Regions from separate parts of the Homo sapiens genome. Here region 2 is linked to region 1. A link means that fine-mapping ties the variant in region 1 to the expression of a gene that starts in the linked region. Tissue or cell type: skin. Region 1 holds a variant in brackets; the other region holds the start of a gene. All regions are shown on one strand. Distances are between the middles of the regions.

What was found. PIP is the estimated chance that this variant, and not a neighbour inherited with it, causes the effect.
Region 2: ZNF212 starts here. The variant in region 1 is fine-mapped to the expression of ZNF212 in skin (TwinsUK, PIP 0.95).

Annotation. Positions count from the first base shown.
Region 1 is chr7:149,274,959-149,283,039 of GRCh38, forward strand. It overlaps ZNF783 (zinc finger protein 783), which reads left to right. Exons shown (of 6, transcript NM_001195220.2): 5 at 3,441-3,569; 6 at 6,547-8,081. The coding sequence ends at 7,385. Among named protein-coding and RNA genes, the nearest start is that of ZNF783, 17 kb to the left of the region's middle. RefSeq lists an enhancer at 6,475-7,011. The variant G/GT (reference allele first, on the strand shown) is at 4,674.
Region 2 is chr7:149,234,792-149,242,892 of GRCh38, forward strand. ZNF212 (zinc finger protein 212) reads left to right here and starts at 4,860. Exons shown (of 5, transcript NM_012256.4): 1 at 4,860-5,011. The coding sequence starts at 4,988. RefSeq lists an enhancer at 4,627-4,921.

The DNA.
Region 1 (8,081 bases):
ATTGCATTGAGTCTGTAGATTGCTTTGTGTACTGTGGACATTATAACTAATTCATTCTTCCAATCTATGAACATGGAATATCTTTCCATTTTTTGGTGTCCTCTTCAATTTCTTGCATTAATGTTTCATAATTTTCATTCTAGACATCTTTTACTTCCTTTGTTAAGTTTTTTCCTAGGTATTTTATTTTATTTATAGCTATTGTAAATGGGATTATTTTCTTGATTTCTTTTTCAGATTGTTCACTGTTGGCATATAAAAAGGCTACTGATTTTGTATATTGATTCCGTATGCTGCGACTTTGCTGAATTTATCAGTTCTAATAGGTTTTTTTGATGGAGGCTTTAGGTTTTTCTTTCTTTTTTTTTTTTTTAGACGGAGTTTCGCTCTGTTGCCTAGGCTGGAGTGCAGTGGCGCGATCTTGGCTCACTGCAAGCTGCGCCTCCCGGGTTCACGCCATTCTCCTGCCTCAGCCTCCCGAGTAGCTGGGACTACAGGCACCCATGACCACGCCCGGCTAATTTTTTGTGTTTTTTTTTAAGTAGAGACGGGGTTTCACTGTGTTAGCCAGGATGGTCTCGATTTCCTGACCTTGTGATCCGCCCGCCTGGGCCTCCCAAAGTGCTGGGATTACAGGCATGAGCCACTGCGCCTGGCCCTCTCCTGCCGTTCTTTCAAAATCATCTTCAATGAGGTTGCCTTCTTGGCCTGTGCTTCCCTTTATTCATCTGGGGGCACTGGAGGCCAAGGAGCTGCGTGGAGTCTTCACCTGATGGAACTGATGGAAGTGGCATTTTTGGAGAGGCCTAGGACTGCCCCAACTAGGAGCACTGCTGACTTGCAGGCTGCTTGATCCTGGGGGTGCTGCCCCTTTGCCAGTGCTGTCCCCCAAATCCAACTGCAGTGGAATCTGGCTCTTCCTCCCAATATTTAAAAAATTATTCATAATTTTTTTTGGCAGGGTCTTGCTCTGTCACTCAGACTGGAGTCGTGCAATCATAGCTTACTGCAGCCTCAACTTCCCGGGCTCAGGTGATCCTCCCACCTCAGCCCCCTGAGTAGCTGGAACTACAGGCGTATGCCACCACACCCAGCTCATTTTTGTATTTTTTTGTAGAGGCAGGGTTTCACCATGTTGCCTATACTGGTCTCAAACTCCTGAGCTCAAGCAGTTCTCCCATCTTGGCCTCCCAAAGTGTTGGGATTACAGGCATGAGCCACTACGCCCGGCCTTATTTTCAATTCTTAGTGGCTCACGAACAGTCAGGATTCATATTTTCACTTAGACTGTTCTGTTTCTCATTCTTTTTTGAGGCTTCATCCTGCTCAGTCACCACCTTGTGATGCTTGGGGCTGTTTAGTAGGATGGATGATGTGTTTTTCTTTGTTGTAGGAAGGATCCAAAGATGAAACTTCAGAGGATGATCCACTGAAATTTTTAGGATCTGCTGATGAAGCAACCGTCTTTAGGCTTGTCATGAAAGCAACATTTTTAGGGGCAGTGTAACCCGTTGGTTTATAACTCTCCCGTACGTAAAGGGGAATCGGTAGCAGTGTTAGCAGGCACAGACTCAATTGGATTATTACTTTTCATCACTATTTTACCTTTTGATAACCTTCTAGCTGGTTTTACCTCTTCTGTTAGAAGAGAACCTCAGTTGAGGTAGAGTGGACAGGACCCCACTTGGGTTACTTTTTATTTATTTATTTATTTATTTATTTATTTATTTGAGACAGGGTCTGGCCCCGTTGCCCAGGTTGGAATGCAACTGGCACAATCATGGCTCACTGCAGCCTCATACTCCTGGGCTCAAGCCATCCTCCTGCCTCAGCCTCCCAACTAGCAGGGACTGCAGTCATGTGCCACCATACTCGGCGTTTGGTGGTTATTTATTTATTTTTTTTTTTGAGATGGAGTCTTGCTCTGTCGCCCAGGCTGGAGTGCAGTGGCGCGATCTCGGCTCACTGCAAGCTCCGCCTCCCGGGTTCATGCCATTCTCCTGCCTCAGCCTCCCAAGTAGCTGGGACTACAGGTGCCTGCCACCACGCCCAGCTAATTTTTTGTATTTTTAGTAGAGACGGGGTTTCACCATGTTAGCCAGGATGGTCTTGATCTCCTGACCTTGTGATCCGCCTGCCTTGGCCTCCCAAAGTGCTGGGATTACAGGCGTGAGCCACCGCGCCCGGTCTGGTTGTTCTTTTATCTCTGACAAGGCATTGTTCTCTGGATGCTTAAGTTTAGGAAGATCCAGCGTGGTAAATTCCAACCCAGGTTTGGAGGTAGAGCCACTTTTTCCATGATTCTGGGTTTCTTGTCTGTTCCCTTCTGATCTGATGCCCATCCAATTTCAAATTCCTCTTAGCATCAAGTGGACAAATGATGTGAGCCATTTGCTGATTTCATCTCTGATGGTAGCATTCTGTCAACTCTCACTGTCAGCCTTTTGCTCATCATAGTTTTTTTCTTATCATCTTTTTTTGCTTAAAAAATCAGAGCTTTGGCCAGGCACAGTGGCTCACTCCTGTAATCCCAGCACTTTGGGAGGCCAAGAGGGTGGATCACAAGGTCAGGAGTTCAAGACCAGCCTGGCCAAGATGGTGGAACCCCGTCTCTACTTAAAAAATACAAAAATTAGCCGGGCATGGTAATGGGCGTCTGTAATCCCTACTACTTGGGAGGCTGAGGCAGAGAATTGCTTGAACCTGGGAGTCGGAGTTTGCAGTGAGCCAGGATTGCGCCACTGCACTCCAGCCTGGGCAACAGAGCGAGACTCCGCCTCAAAAAAAAAAAAAAAAATTCAAAAAAAAAAATCAGAGTTTGATTTCTTGTGTGAGAGGACAAGTGCTCATTTCGGGGCTTTACCATTTGAAAGTCTTGCTAACAGCTGGGTTGGTTACGATCACTCTGGGAGGCGGGCACTGATTAAACATGTATATAGACACGGGTTCTAAGAAGTAGGCGTAGGGATGGAGTTATCTTGAAAGACAACTTCTGAGGGGAAAACCTTGACGCTCCTAACGCCATATCTTCAGTTGTGTTTCTGCCCTGCCTTGGGTCCCCTATGCCATAAGAGCAGCTTGGAGGAGGAGGAGGAGGCCCGACTGCGGGAGGTGGTGACCACCCCACTGGCTGGTGGGACAGGCATGGTGTTTCTCTTTCCTGCCTTAAAATGCCAGATTCTGTCATGACCTGCCTGGCGATCATTACCGTGATTTCCTGTCTGCTGAATTCCTGTGCTGCAGTTTCCTTCTGTGGGACATGAGGCTTTAGACTGGAATCTAGCTGCCAGGTATTTGGTGGGGTCCACCTCACTATCATGCCCTGTGCTGGAGCTGAGGCCCCAGGATCGCAGTGACTCTGCCTTTCCCCAGAGGGTCCCTGGTCATCTGGGCAGGAGACCTCCATGTTGTGCTCAATGTCACTGATTTACATTCTCCAGGCCTCCCTCCGTATCCAGAGCACCTCACCAGCCCACTTAGCCCTGCCCAGGAGGAGCTGAAAGAAGGGCAGGCCCCCAAGCAGCAGCAGGACTCAGAGGCGAGAGTGGCCCCAGCCGGGCCAGAAGCAGGTGAGTGAGGACAGTGAGGCGGCAGGATGAACAGTGTCCCGAGGCAGCACGCGATCACCAAGCGATGGTGCTGAGGAAAAGCCCTGGAAGCATGGGGCTGGGAGAGAGGGCTGGGAGACTGGTTGGGCTGGGCCGGACAGGCTTTCTGGGAAAGAGGCCCCTGAGACAGGCCTAAAAGAAGGTAGGTTTTGGCATTTTCAGCGTGAGAAAACAGTCTGTATAGAGGGGTGGGTTCCTCTGCGTGTTGGGGGCCTGGGCACATGGGTCCGGTGGAGTGAGGGGAGGGGGTAGATGGGTGTGTTGTGCCTGCCCAGGGTCTTTACGAGGGTCCCATCCACGGGGCAGTGTGTGTCCTGTGCCTAGCGCGGCGCCAGCATGGTGTTTCTCAGTAAACGCCCTCTTTCTGAAGACCTACTGGGAACTCTGGCTTTAGTCATCCTTCCAGACTTCTTTGTCTGCTTTTATTTAAAGGCAGTCCCTGCCTGTCCTTTCACAAAAGTGTATATCAGGGCATTTAGCGGAACACTTGCAAACAGTCCAGAGCTCTGTTCTCTGTCTAGTGTTCCTCTGCGGGGCTGGCTCCTCCACCTGGTCCTGCCGCTGGCCCGACTTTCAGTCTCTGGTTGCTTTCCCTGTGGTGATTTCTGGGTATCTTCCCCACTGGATCATCCTCCCTTCCCTGGGTTTCTCTTTCCAGCCAGTGTGTAAGTCTGGGCTCTGCTCATGGAGTTGGAGAGATGGGACCCTCTTAGGTGGGAAGGCAATGTTCCTGCCCCATTGCAGACCTGGAACGGTGTCCGGGAGCCTCCCAACCCTCTGTTCTTTTCAGGCTCATCAGGGTGACAGATGCTGAGGGACAAGTCATTAGCACTGGCCTGCAGGAGTGTTGGGGACATGGCCTTCGTAGCTCTTGTCTCACCTCTGAAGCCCTCGGGACAGAAGCCCTAGGCCTCCTTTCCCTGACAGGGACTTGCGCACGTCCAGGGCTGCTGGGGAGATGGCTGTGCACGCTGCAAGCCGCGGGTGTCCAGCAGCCGGTGTTGGGAGAGGCCCTCGCCGAGTCTTTCTCACGTGGCCGCCAGCTAGCACCAGCATTTTATCTTT[G/GT]TTTTTTTTTTTTTTTTTTTTTTAATTTTTTTTTTTTTATTGATCATTCTTGGGTGTTTCTCGCAGAGGGGGATTTGGCAGGGTCATAGGACAATAGTGGAGGGAAGTGGGGAAGTGGACACAGCACATGTTTCAGAGAGCACAGGGTTGGGGGTAAGGTCACCGATCAACAGGAACCCAAGGCAGAAGAATTTATCTTAGTACAGAACAAAATGAAAAGTCTCCCATGTCTACTTCTTTCTACACAGACACGGCAACCATCCGATTTCTCAATCTTTTCCCCACCTTTCCCCCCTTTCTATTCCACAAAACCGCCATTGTCATCCCGGCCCGTTCTCAATGAGCTGTTGGGTACACCTCCCAGACGAGATGGTGGCTGGGCAGAGGGGCTCCTCACTTCCTAGTAGGGGTGGCCGGGCAGAGGCGCCCCTCACCTCCCGGACGGGGCGGCTGGCCGGGCGGGGGGCTGACCCCCCCACCTCCCTCCCGGACAGGGCGGCTGGCCGGGCGGGGGGCTGACCCCCCCACCTCCCTCCCGGACGGGGCGGCTGGCCGGGCAGAGGAGCTCCTCACTTCCCAGTAGGGGTGGCCGGGCAGAGGCGCCCCTCACCTCCCGGAGCACCAGCATTTTATCTTTGATTAAGCCAGAAGGAGAGTCTTTAGATGGGGAGTCTCCAACCTTCCCCACCAGGGACATCCTGCCAGGCATGGGGCCTGGGGAAGAAGGGCGGAGGCACCTGTGGCCGCAGCAGAGCCCCACAGGAGTGTGGGGGCCTTTTGGGAGTGGGGTGGGGTTGGGGTTGGGTGGTGGGACCTGGTGAGGGGCTTCCTCCTGAGGGTTCTCTCCCTCCCTCTCCAGCTTCTATCTCCCTGGGGACTGTGGGGACCCAGATCAGTCTGGGGTCCTTCCTGGTCTTTCCCCATCGTGGTCTGGTCTGGCCTGGCTGGAAAGGCACTGCATGAAAACCCAGGCATCAGATCCCAGGCATGTGGTCCGATGATGATGGAAAAGCTGTTCACGTGGTCTTGGCGTGGCTGGGCTCCCAGCCCCTCCGTGTCCACAGTCTGTGTCCCTCTGCCTAGAGTCTGTGCTTCCCTGAGAGGGCAGGGTGCCAGGACCCTCCCTCACATTAGGGACCCCTGAGAGCTGGGTGCTGAGACCTGGGGTCTCACGTCTCCAGCACATTGCTGTGATCACCTGCCACTGCCTTGGTTGTCCTTGTCACTGCTGTCCCAGCAGCTCCTTGCCTCCACCCAACCTGGGAGTTGAGTGAGACTCACACAGACCCAGGCAGGAATCTCAGGTCCCAGTGCCTCCTCTCTGTCACCAGTGAGTGTAGTGGCAGACAGGTCGTGGACGCTCTGTGTGGATTTGTCATGTGGATGAGCAGCTGAGCATGGGTGCAGCACTCACCACCTCTAGTCCACAGAGGCCTCTTAGGGTGGTCTGGGGGCATGCAGGGCCCCTGGGGTTCATTGTCTTTCACAGATGGTAACTAATGTCACCAGAACTCTTGGGGGTGGGGTCCTGCCACCCTCTCTGCTGTGCCCAGGGTCTCTGCTTCTGTGTCCCACTCCAGCTGACCCCTGACCTCTGGGCTCCCTGGCTCCTGGCCTTGCAGTTTGATCTCCCCTCCCCTGATGTCCTTAGCTTGGCCTCCAGGAATGAGGCAGATGACAACAATCAGGACTGAGTGACCGTGCAAGGCAGTGCCTGTGTGGCAGGGCTCAGTGAGCAGGACCCCTGCAATGTGCTGTGAGCACTGTGGGGAGATAGGGCCCGGGCTGAGGCTGGAAGCCAGGACTGGGCCGAGTGACCTGGGGGACAGGGTGGTGAGGTCCACTTGGAAACCAACATAGACTCCTTTGCCAGGTGGTGGTGTGGCCATCAAGACAGAGGCACAGTCTGAAGACGAGATGACGCCTGAGCGGCTCTTTCTGGGGGTGTCCCGAGGCCAGACCGAGTGTAGAATCCCCCGAGGGCCCAGGAACAGGCCTGGGGGCCCCAGCCGTCATCAGGCCCAGGGCATGCCCAGGGTGCGGGCAGGGGAGCCACGGCCACCGGGGGCCAGTGGGGAGACGCCCCGAGTCCTCTCCCGCAGGCGGCAGCGGGCATTCCCCTGCCCCGACTGCGGGCAGAGCTTCCGCCTGAAGATCAATCTGACGATTCATCAGCGGACCCATGTGGAGGAGGGGCGGCAGGAGGCCCCCGGCCGCTCGCCCACCAGCTGCGGGGACAGCCAGGCCATGCTGGAGCCGGGGGAGGTGGTGGTACCCGGCCCTGTCATCCGCTGGCTCCCCGAGGAGCCTGAGGGTCGCCGCTCCGTGGCAGGGGGCCGTGCCTTGGTGGGGCGGCGGCCTGCAGCCAGCAAGATGTACCACTGCAGCGAGTGCCTGCGCTTCTTCCAGCAGCGCAAGAGCCTGCTGCTGCACCAGCGCCTGCACACCGGCAATGGCCAGGGCTGGCCCGCCTGCCCCTACTGCGGCAAGGCCTTCCGCCGGCCCTCGGACCTCTTCCGGCACCAGCGCATCCACACCGGTGAGCGGCCCTACCAGTGCCCCCAGTGTGGCCGGACCTTCAACCGCAACCACCACCTGGCCGTGCACATGCAGACCCACGCCCGAGGCCAGGTGGGCCCACACTTCCCTGCCGCCCCCGCCCGCCACGGGAGCCTGCCCCTGCCCTGGCCCAGCCGGAAGGAGGAGGGCTGACCTGGCAGGAGCCCACAGAGGACCCCTGGCGGGGTCTCTCCCCTGTGCCTGACGCAGGTTCTTCCTTTTCCTGGGATGGAGAGAGGTTTGTTGTTTTTACCCATTCAAATGGGAAGCTAGCTGCCCTTCTGGTGACATTGTGTGTGACCGGGTGCTTTCTGTTTCCTGTTTGCACTCTTCGCTGCCTTTTCTGCATTCCTGACTTCTAAAAGATGCCTTAAGGCTTAAGGGATGCCATATTTTTGATAAGGCCTCTGGTAGGTACCACAGCCAAGAGGACCAGAGATCATGGCCCTTCCAGTATGGGGGCGATAGAGACATCGGGGACCTGGGATTTTTGTTTTGTGCAGAGATCTCCTGCCTGCTGTCACCATGAGAAACAGTGGAGTGGAGTGGATGGATGGCCTGACTTGAAGAAAGGGCCCTGGAAAGTTTTCTACTTTGCTATTTTGAAATTTTTTTCCCTTCTTATAGAGACTTTGAAATACTTTTGTAAATGTGTGTAGTTGTTAATGGAACTTTGCCTTTTGCAAAGTCGGAAAGAGTCGGCTTTTCCATGTGAGGCTCGCAGAGCTGAAAGGGGAGCTACGTCCACCAGCCTGTGGGTCTTTTGGTTTTTTTTTTGTTGTTGTTGTTGTTTTTTTAAGATGGAGTTTCACTCTTGTTGCCCAGGCTGGAGTGCAATGGTACAATCTC
Region 2 (8,101 bases), 40 kb before region 1:
AAGAGTCTTAACGAGTGGAATAAAGCCATGGATTATAAACTTTTTTGAGAAAAAAACAGGCATACATATATGTACTTATATAGGCTAATATGTATGCTATAAATCATACACATGATACAAATTTAAAGGATAAGATAATTTTTGTGTGTGTGAAACAGGGCTTTATTCTGTCACTCAGGCTGGAATGCAGTGACGTGATCACAGCTCACTGCAACCTCGACCTCCTGGGCTCAAGTGATCCTCCTACCTCAGCCTCCCGAGTAGCTGGGACTGCAGGCGTGTGCCACCATGCCTAGCTATTTTTTTTTTTTTTTTTGTAGAGATGGAGTCCCATTATGTTGCCCAGGCTGGTCTCCAACTCCTGGCTTCAAGCAATCCTCCCACCTCAGCCTTCCAAAGTGCTGGGATTACAGGCATGAGCCACTGCACCTGGCCAAGATAAATATTATTAAAACATTATTTTAACAATGTATATTATTTGTTTGTTCAAAGAATACTTTTTTCTTTCACTAAAAATGAGGGTCTGGGGTGAGATGATGTCTAAGGTCATTTTCAGCTCTGCATGTTGCATTCATATTCTACAAATGTAGAGATGCCAGGCTACAAGTACTAAATGTCTATTTTCTTGATTCTTGGAATACCAATGCTACTAATGGGAATAACTGTGAACTTCATTTAAAAGTTTTTTAAGCCGGGTGTGGTGGCTCATGCCTGTAATCCCAGCACTTTGGGAAGCTGAGGCGGGCGGATCACGAAGTCAGGAAATTGAGACCATCCTGGCTAACACAGTGAAACCCTGTCTCTACTAAAAATACAAAAAAAAAAAAAAAAAAAAAAAATTAGCTGGGCGTGGTGGCGGGTGCCTGTAGTCCCAGTTACTCAAAAGGCTGAGGCAGGAGAATGGCGTGAACCTGGGAGGTGGAGCTTGCAGTGAGCGGAGATCACGACACTGCACTCCAGCCTGGGTGACAGAGAGAGACTCTGTCTCAAAAAAAAAGAGGAAAAAAAAAGTTTTTTAAAACGGACTGGGCGCAGTGGCTCATACCTGTAATCCCAGCACTTTGGGAGGCCGAGGCGGGTGGATCACTTGAGGTCAGGAGTTCGAGACCAGCCTGGCCAACATGATGAAACCCCCTCTCTACTAAAAATACAAAAGTTAGCTTGGCGTGGTGGCACACACCTGTAATGCCGGCTACTTGGGAGGCTGAGGCAGGAGAATCGCTTGGACCTGGGAGGCGGAGGTTGCAGTGAGCCAAGATTTCTCCACTGCACTCCAGCCTCGGCAAGAGAGCGAGATTCTGTCTCAAAACAAAAAACAAAAAACAACAACAATTTTTTTTGAGATGGAGTCTCGCTCTGTGGCTTAGGCTGGAGTGCAGTGGTGCAATCTCGCTCACTGCAAGCTCTGCCTCCCAGGTTCACACCATTCTCCTGCCTCAGCCTCTGGAGTAGCTGGGACTACAGGCGCCCGCCACCACACCTGGCTAATTTTTTGTATTTTTAGTGGAGACAGGGTTTCACCATGTTAGCCAGGATGGTCTCGATCTCCTGACCTTGTGATCCGCCTGCCTTGGCCTCCCAAAGTGCTGGGATTACAGGCGTAAGCCACCACACCCGGCCAACAACGTTTTTTAAAACAGCATATGTCAAGATTTGAATGTCAGTTGGAAAAAACAAATGGGTAGTTTCTAAGAGACACAACAAAGCCACATTTATCCTGCTGAACTCATTGCAATACAAGGCTTGGACCTTGCAAAAGTAAAGCAGAGAGAAGAAATTGCCTGTTATCAAGTGCTTGCTGTATGCCGGGCACTTGGCTACATAAGCACTTTACATAAATTCTTTCTTTTAGTTCCATCAGCAACCTTAGGATGAGGTGTTCACATTCTCAGTGGAAGACAAGGACACTAGGGCAGAGTGAGCATGAGCCACAGCACTTAGTAAATGAAGGATCTGGGACTAAACAACAATAATGATCATGAGTACTTCTTGAGCTCTTCCTCTGTGCCAGGTACTGTTCTAAGCACTTGACTTGAATTCACTCATTTAATTCACACAACTCTATGAGCTAAGTACTGTTATCTATTCACCAATAATCATGAGGAAACAAGTACTAAGAAGTTAAAGACCTGACCAAGTTTCACATCTAGTAAGTGGCTGTGATGGTGAATACTGAATCAACTTGATCGCATTGAAGGATGTAAAGTATTGATCCTGGGTGTGTCTGTGAGGGTGTTGCCAAAGGAGATTAACATTTGAGTCAGTAGGCTGGGAAAGGCAGACCCACCCTCAATCTGGTGGGCACAATCTAATCAGCTGCCAGCACAGCTAGAATATAAAGTAGGCAGAAAAATGTGAAAAGACTAGACTGGCCTAGCCTCCCAGCCTACTTCTTTCTCCCATGCTGGACCCTTCCCACCCTCGAACATCAACGAACATCAGACTCTAGGTTCTTCAGTTTTGGGACGCAGACTGGCTCTCCTTGCTCCTCAGCTTCCAGATAGCCTATTGTGGAGCCTTGTGAGCATGTGAGTTAATACTTAATAAACTCCCCTTTATATAACATTATATATATATCCTATTAGTCTGTCTAGAGAAACCTAATATACTGGCAGTGCTGGGCTAGGGACCCAGACGGTCTCACTCCCCAGCCCCACTTAGCAAATCACTGTGCCACACTGTCTTCATCAGCCCGGGGGACTGCAGGCGCCACACCATCTCCACCAGCCCACGTGATTGCAACCCTGGTGCCTGGTGCTGCCTCCTTTGCAGGCTGGAAATTTGATCTGAACCTTTTTCCAGACTTCCAGGCTCAGAGTCTGGGATGCTGAAACATGCTCATTTTCAAGAGACTGAGGTATACATGTGCATCAGCTTCACCTGCATGTTGCCTCCCAGAAGCTACCTGGCAACATGCAACGTCAGAAGGTTGCCTTGTGAGTATAGAAATAGAATAGAGGGAATGAGTTCTACGACCGAACTGTTTAATGACCTCAGCATCCTATGTCCTGATATTGTGCCTGTGGAGGATAACATTTTTATTTTATTTTTAAAGACAAGATCTTGGTCTGTTGCCTACGCTGGAGTGCAGTGGTGCGATCGTGATTCACTGCAGCCTTGAACTACTGGGTTCAAATGATTCTTCCACCTCAACCTCTTGAGTAGCTGAGACTACAGGTGTGCACCACTACTCCTGGCTCATTTTAATTTTAATTTTAATTTTGTAGAGACAGGGTCTGCCTATTTGCTCAGGTTGGTCTCAAACTCCAGTGATCCTCCTGCCTTGCCCTCCCAAAGTGCTAGGATTACAGGCATGAGCCACCTCACCCATGACACATTTTTTTTTTTTTCTGTATCTGACACCAAGAGTTTGTTGGTCTGAGAGATTAGGTCAGACCCTCTGGACAGGATCTCCCTGACTGACCGGTTTCTTCAGCCTGGCCCATTCTTTCTCTAGATTTATTAATGATTCAGTGACGTGCCCGTTGATCTAGTTGCCCTGGAAATAATGCCTCTGTTTGAGATGACATTTCATATCCTTACACTCTGATTCACCATTCAATCATTTACAAATATGAACACTTCTGTGTACAACAAATGGAGGATACAGTAGACAGACATTTCAGTGGAAGAGATACAGATAATTAATATGTAAATGAGTGAAAAAGAGAGATTACTTCAGATGGTGATAAATGGTATGAAAAATTTCCAGCAGGGTAACGAGATTGAGTATTGAGATGGAGGATGGTGTGGGGCTGTAGAAAGGGGGGACTGGGGATATCTCTCTGAGGATGTAGAATCTGAACTGAGCCCTGCATGTGAGGAAGGAGCCAGTCATGATCTTAAAAGTTTCGTTCTCCGCCGGGTGGGGTGGCTCACACCTGTAATCCCGGCGCTTTGGGAGGCTGAGGTGGGCGGATCACCTGAGGTCGGGAGTTTGAGACCAGCCTGACCAACATGGGGAAACCCCGTCTCTACTAAAAATACAAAATTAGCCAGGCGTGGTGGCACATGCCTGTAATCCCAGCTACTAGGGAGGCTGAGGCAGAAGAATCGCTTGAGCCCGGGAGGTGGAGGTTGCAGTGAGCCGAGATTGCGCCATTGCACTCCAGCCTGGGCAACAAGAGCGAAACTCCATCTCAAAAAAAAAAAGTTTCGTTCTCAGAGGAAACACTTCACGCCTATCCTGTGAAGTGGAAGTTCATTGCTTGTCTCCAGAGAGACAATGGTATAAATTAGGCAGCTATGGTTGCCGTAGTGTTGCTGGTATTGGGGATTAAGTACATGGCGATTAAATGGTCATGTGGCCGTGCTTTCCAACAAAAATTCCAGACACATCGTCTTACATGTAGCATGAGGACTGGAAATATTTGAAATCAGGGTTGTCTTGGACTTTCCAAGGCACATGATTACCATAATTAACAGGCTACAGAGGGCTGGCCTGGGCCTGACCCCACGCTCCACACTGTTGATATGGAAACTGTTCCCAGTTTCTAAAAAGCCAAATAACAGGTGAACTTTTGGAATAAAATCACTTGCCTTTTGGAACCATATTTCTTTTCCCCAACAACATTACATGTTCTTTCCTCAGCAAAAAGTCTGAGTTGTACACATTTTTGAATCCCTCAAAGCATTTAGCAGAGTGCTGGGCATACGGAAGACAGCAGGATCCCGTGGCTTTGCCTGAAACGCGGAACCTGGTCTTGACTTTTGAGTGACTGAGCCCTCCTGGTGCCCGCACTCTGGCCGGGAGTGCCAAGCAGCGTTCTCCCTCCCGCCGCACGGGGGCACAATGGGAAGCCTGCACAGTGAGGAAGAGCGGCTGGAGCCGGTCTTGTGCCGGGGAGGTCGCTGCTCCCAGAATGCACCTGGCATCAACACGGCGGCGGCGGCGGCGGCTTCCAACAGGCTCTGGGGCGCCGAGCGGACAGGAACGCAGCACGGGGGCTCCGAGGCGGGGTCTGGGTGTTGAGGGGCGACTGGAGCCATGGCGGAGTCGGCGCCTGCTCGGGTAAAGAGGCACCGGCGCGCTGGCTCGAGGGCGCGTTGGGGATGGCGGAGTCCCCTGCCGGGGGCGGGGCTTCGCGGTTTGGACGCCGCCGGGGTCTTGGTTTCCCGGGGCTGCCGTTGGCGCGGGTGAACGCGGACCCTCCTCTTCGCGACCCCAGTGCTCTGCCCTTTTTTCCCTCCGCTTCCTTCTGCAGCGGGGTCGGAGCCTCGGCGCCGTGCGCCCTTGCCCAGAAACTTCTCTGACGCTTGCTTTAGGTTGGTGGATTTGTGACCCTGCCCACACATTTTCTCTTTCGTGCCAAAAGAGCCCGTTCCCAGGTTGGAGTGTTTCCAGATTGGAAACGGTCTCCGTCGCTACGAGTGAGCTCTCCCGCTGCCCGGGAGACCCCAGGACTTGCCTCTCTGCGACCACCTCCTCTTCGGTCCGATGTGTTGTCGGTTTTTCCAGTGCTGCAGATTTCTGTCTGGGGGTTGCAGCCACAGGTTGAAGTCAGCCTGGGCTGCTTCTCCTTGGGGACGGATGTTATCTACAGTGCAGTTGCTGCATTTTGTTTGTAGAGCTGCCCAAACTCTCTCCTTCACCCCCCCCCCAACACCCCCCTCCCAGCCCACCGACCATCCCCATTCTGGGAATGTCAAGATACGGAGTTTGGTGTGAGGAAAATCCTATTTGTGGAGTCACGAAGCTTTCAGCTGTCCATTTGGGTGATTTTAGGCAACTGTGTTCGCTTCTCTGGGTCTCTTTCGTTTTCTTAACTGTAAATCGAGAGTGTTGGAGTAGTTGCTAGATGATCTCCAAGGCTTTAAGTTTCCTTCCAGCTCCGACATTCTCATACTGTTCCCATACTGTTTCAAAGTAGTGGTTAATTTAACAACACCAGAGGGTTTGCAACGGAAGGGGCAGCTGGAATTGAATTGACTTTTAATGAAGTGTTCCTTGGTCTAGAAACACTTCGAGAATCATGTTAGATCTTTGTGAGAATGGAGGGCTAAGGAAATTCTGTGGGGAAAATTTGACCATGAGCAGGGTGCGCTATATTTGATTCTTGTAGAAAGTGCGTTAAGAACTAAGAACGGAGAGATTGGGAGACTTAGAGAACACAGTATTTGCTTTCAAGGAAGTTAACAGTTGAATTGGGAAGACAAGACACAAATGTTTACAATATTAACCTCATCTGACTCCTATAAGCTAGGCTGAGCCAGTCAAAGACTTGGCTTTTCCACAAGATCTAGTTAGTGTTAGAGTCCGGCGAGAGGATTCTGCCACAGTTCTTCCTGCCAGGTCACTCCACAATTACCTACATGTCGTCAGTAGACCTTGTTAGGAAGAAGCCTTAAAGGTCCACCACAGGCCAGGCGCAGTGGCTCATGCCTGTAATCCCAGCACTTTAGGAGGCCGAGGAGGGCGGATCACGAGGTCAGGAGTTCAAGACTAGTCTGGCCAATGTGGTGAAACCCGGTCTCTACTAAAAATACAAAAATTAGCCGGGCGTGGTGGCGGGTGCCTGTAGACCCAGCTACTCGGGAGGCTGAGGCAGAATAATCGCTTGAACCTGGGAGGTGGAGGTTGCAGTGAGCTGAGATCGTGCTATTGCACTCCAGCCTGGGTGACAGAGCAAGACTCTGTCTCAAAAAAAAAAAAAAAAAAAAAGTCCACCACAATCCCAAACTATGCCTTAAATAACATGAATCTGTCGTTGTAGAACTTATTCAAATTGTTCTTGAGCCTGTTTCTCTTCTCAGACATTTCAGGTGTCTGTCATTTAACAGTAAGCTCAAGTAGGTGCCCTGATGAAACAACTGAAAATGCTGGAAAACCCTGCACATAAATGCATTTGAAATGTATTTTAGTAAAGAATACTTGGAGCCCCAAAACTTAAGCGAAAGAGGAAACTCGAAAGTGATAGAGTTCTGAAGCCAACTTTGAGGGCATTGGCCAAACATTCATCTTTGGTGTTTATGATTCAAGGGACCTGCAAAATGGAACACACATCTCAGAGCCTAAGATGGAAAGTCTAAGAAGCTCCCTAACCCAATCCCATGAAGCAGAGAGTTCAAAGGGTAACATTCTGTGTAAGGGTGAACTGAAAGTAAGGTCTGACCTTCAGATGATTGCAAAGTAAGTTGTTAAACCTTGGCACTGAGATTACAGGCGTGAGCCACCGTGCCTGGCCATAGTTTCGTTTCTTTTCTTTCTTTTCTTCTTTTTCTTTTCTTTTCTTTTTTTTTTTTTTTTTTTGAGAGAGTCTCGCTCTCTTGCTCTGGCTGGAGTGCAGTGGAGCAATCTTGGCTGCCTGAAACCTCTGCCTCCCAGGTTCTAAGCGATTCTCCTGCCTCAGCCTCCGGAGTAGCTGGGATTACAGGCATGCGTCACCATGCCTGGCTAATTTTGTATTTTTAGTAGAGATGGGGTTTCACCGTGTTGGCTGGGCTGGTCTCTGAACTCCTGACCTCAGGTGATCCACCTGCCTCGGCCTCCCAAAGTGCTGGGATTACCACTGCATGAGCCACCGCACCCGGCCTAAGGCAGAGGGAATTCTTAAAAGCAACCAAAAAAAAAAAAGACTACCTTGAAATGAAGTACAGCAAAATGAATGGGGGCCAGCTTCTCAACAGCAACCATGGAAGCTAGGCAAAAGTAGAATGATATTGTCAATAGGCTGAAAGAAAGTAACTGTGGTCCCATAGTTTTATATGCAGCAAAAATGTTTCAGAAACAAAGATGTAAAGAAGACATTTTTAGACAAATTAAAAATGACAGTTTGCTACCAATACACTCTTAGAAAAGGAAATTCTAAAAGATATACCTCAGGTAAAATGAAAATTTTCCCAAATAGAAAGTCTGAAAATATGAGAAGATGTGATGATGCATGGAAATGGTTAAATCTAAACAAATAGTGACTTAATAAAACGTAACAATTTCTTGTTGTGTTAAAAACAATTAAAATACATGATGGCATTGATGTAAATATGAGGAAGAGATGATCAGAACTAAAGTGTTTAAAGGGCTTTGTTAAAGGGCCTTCTATGTATGTTTCCCATAATTTCTAGGATACTTGCTAAACAACTCGAAATTGGTCGTATAACTTAC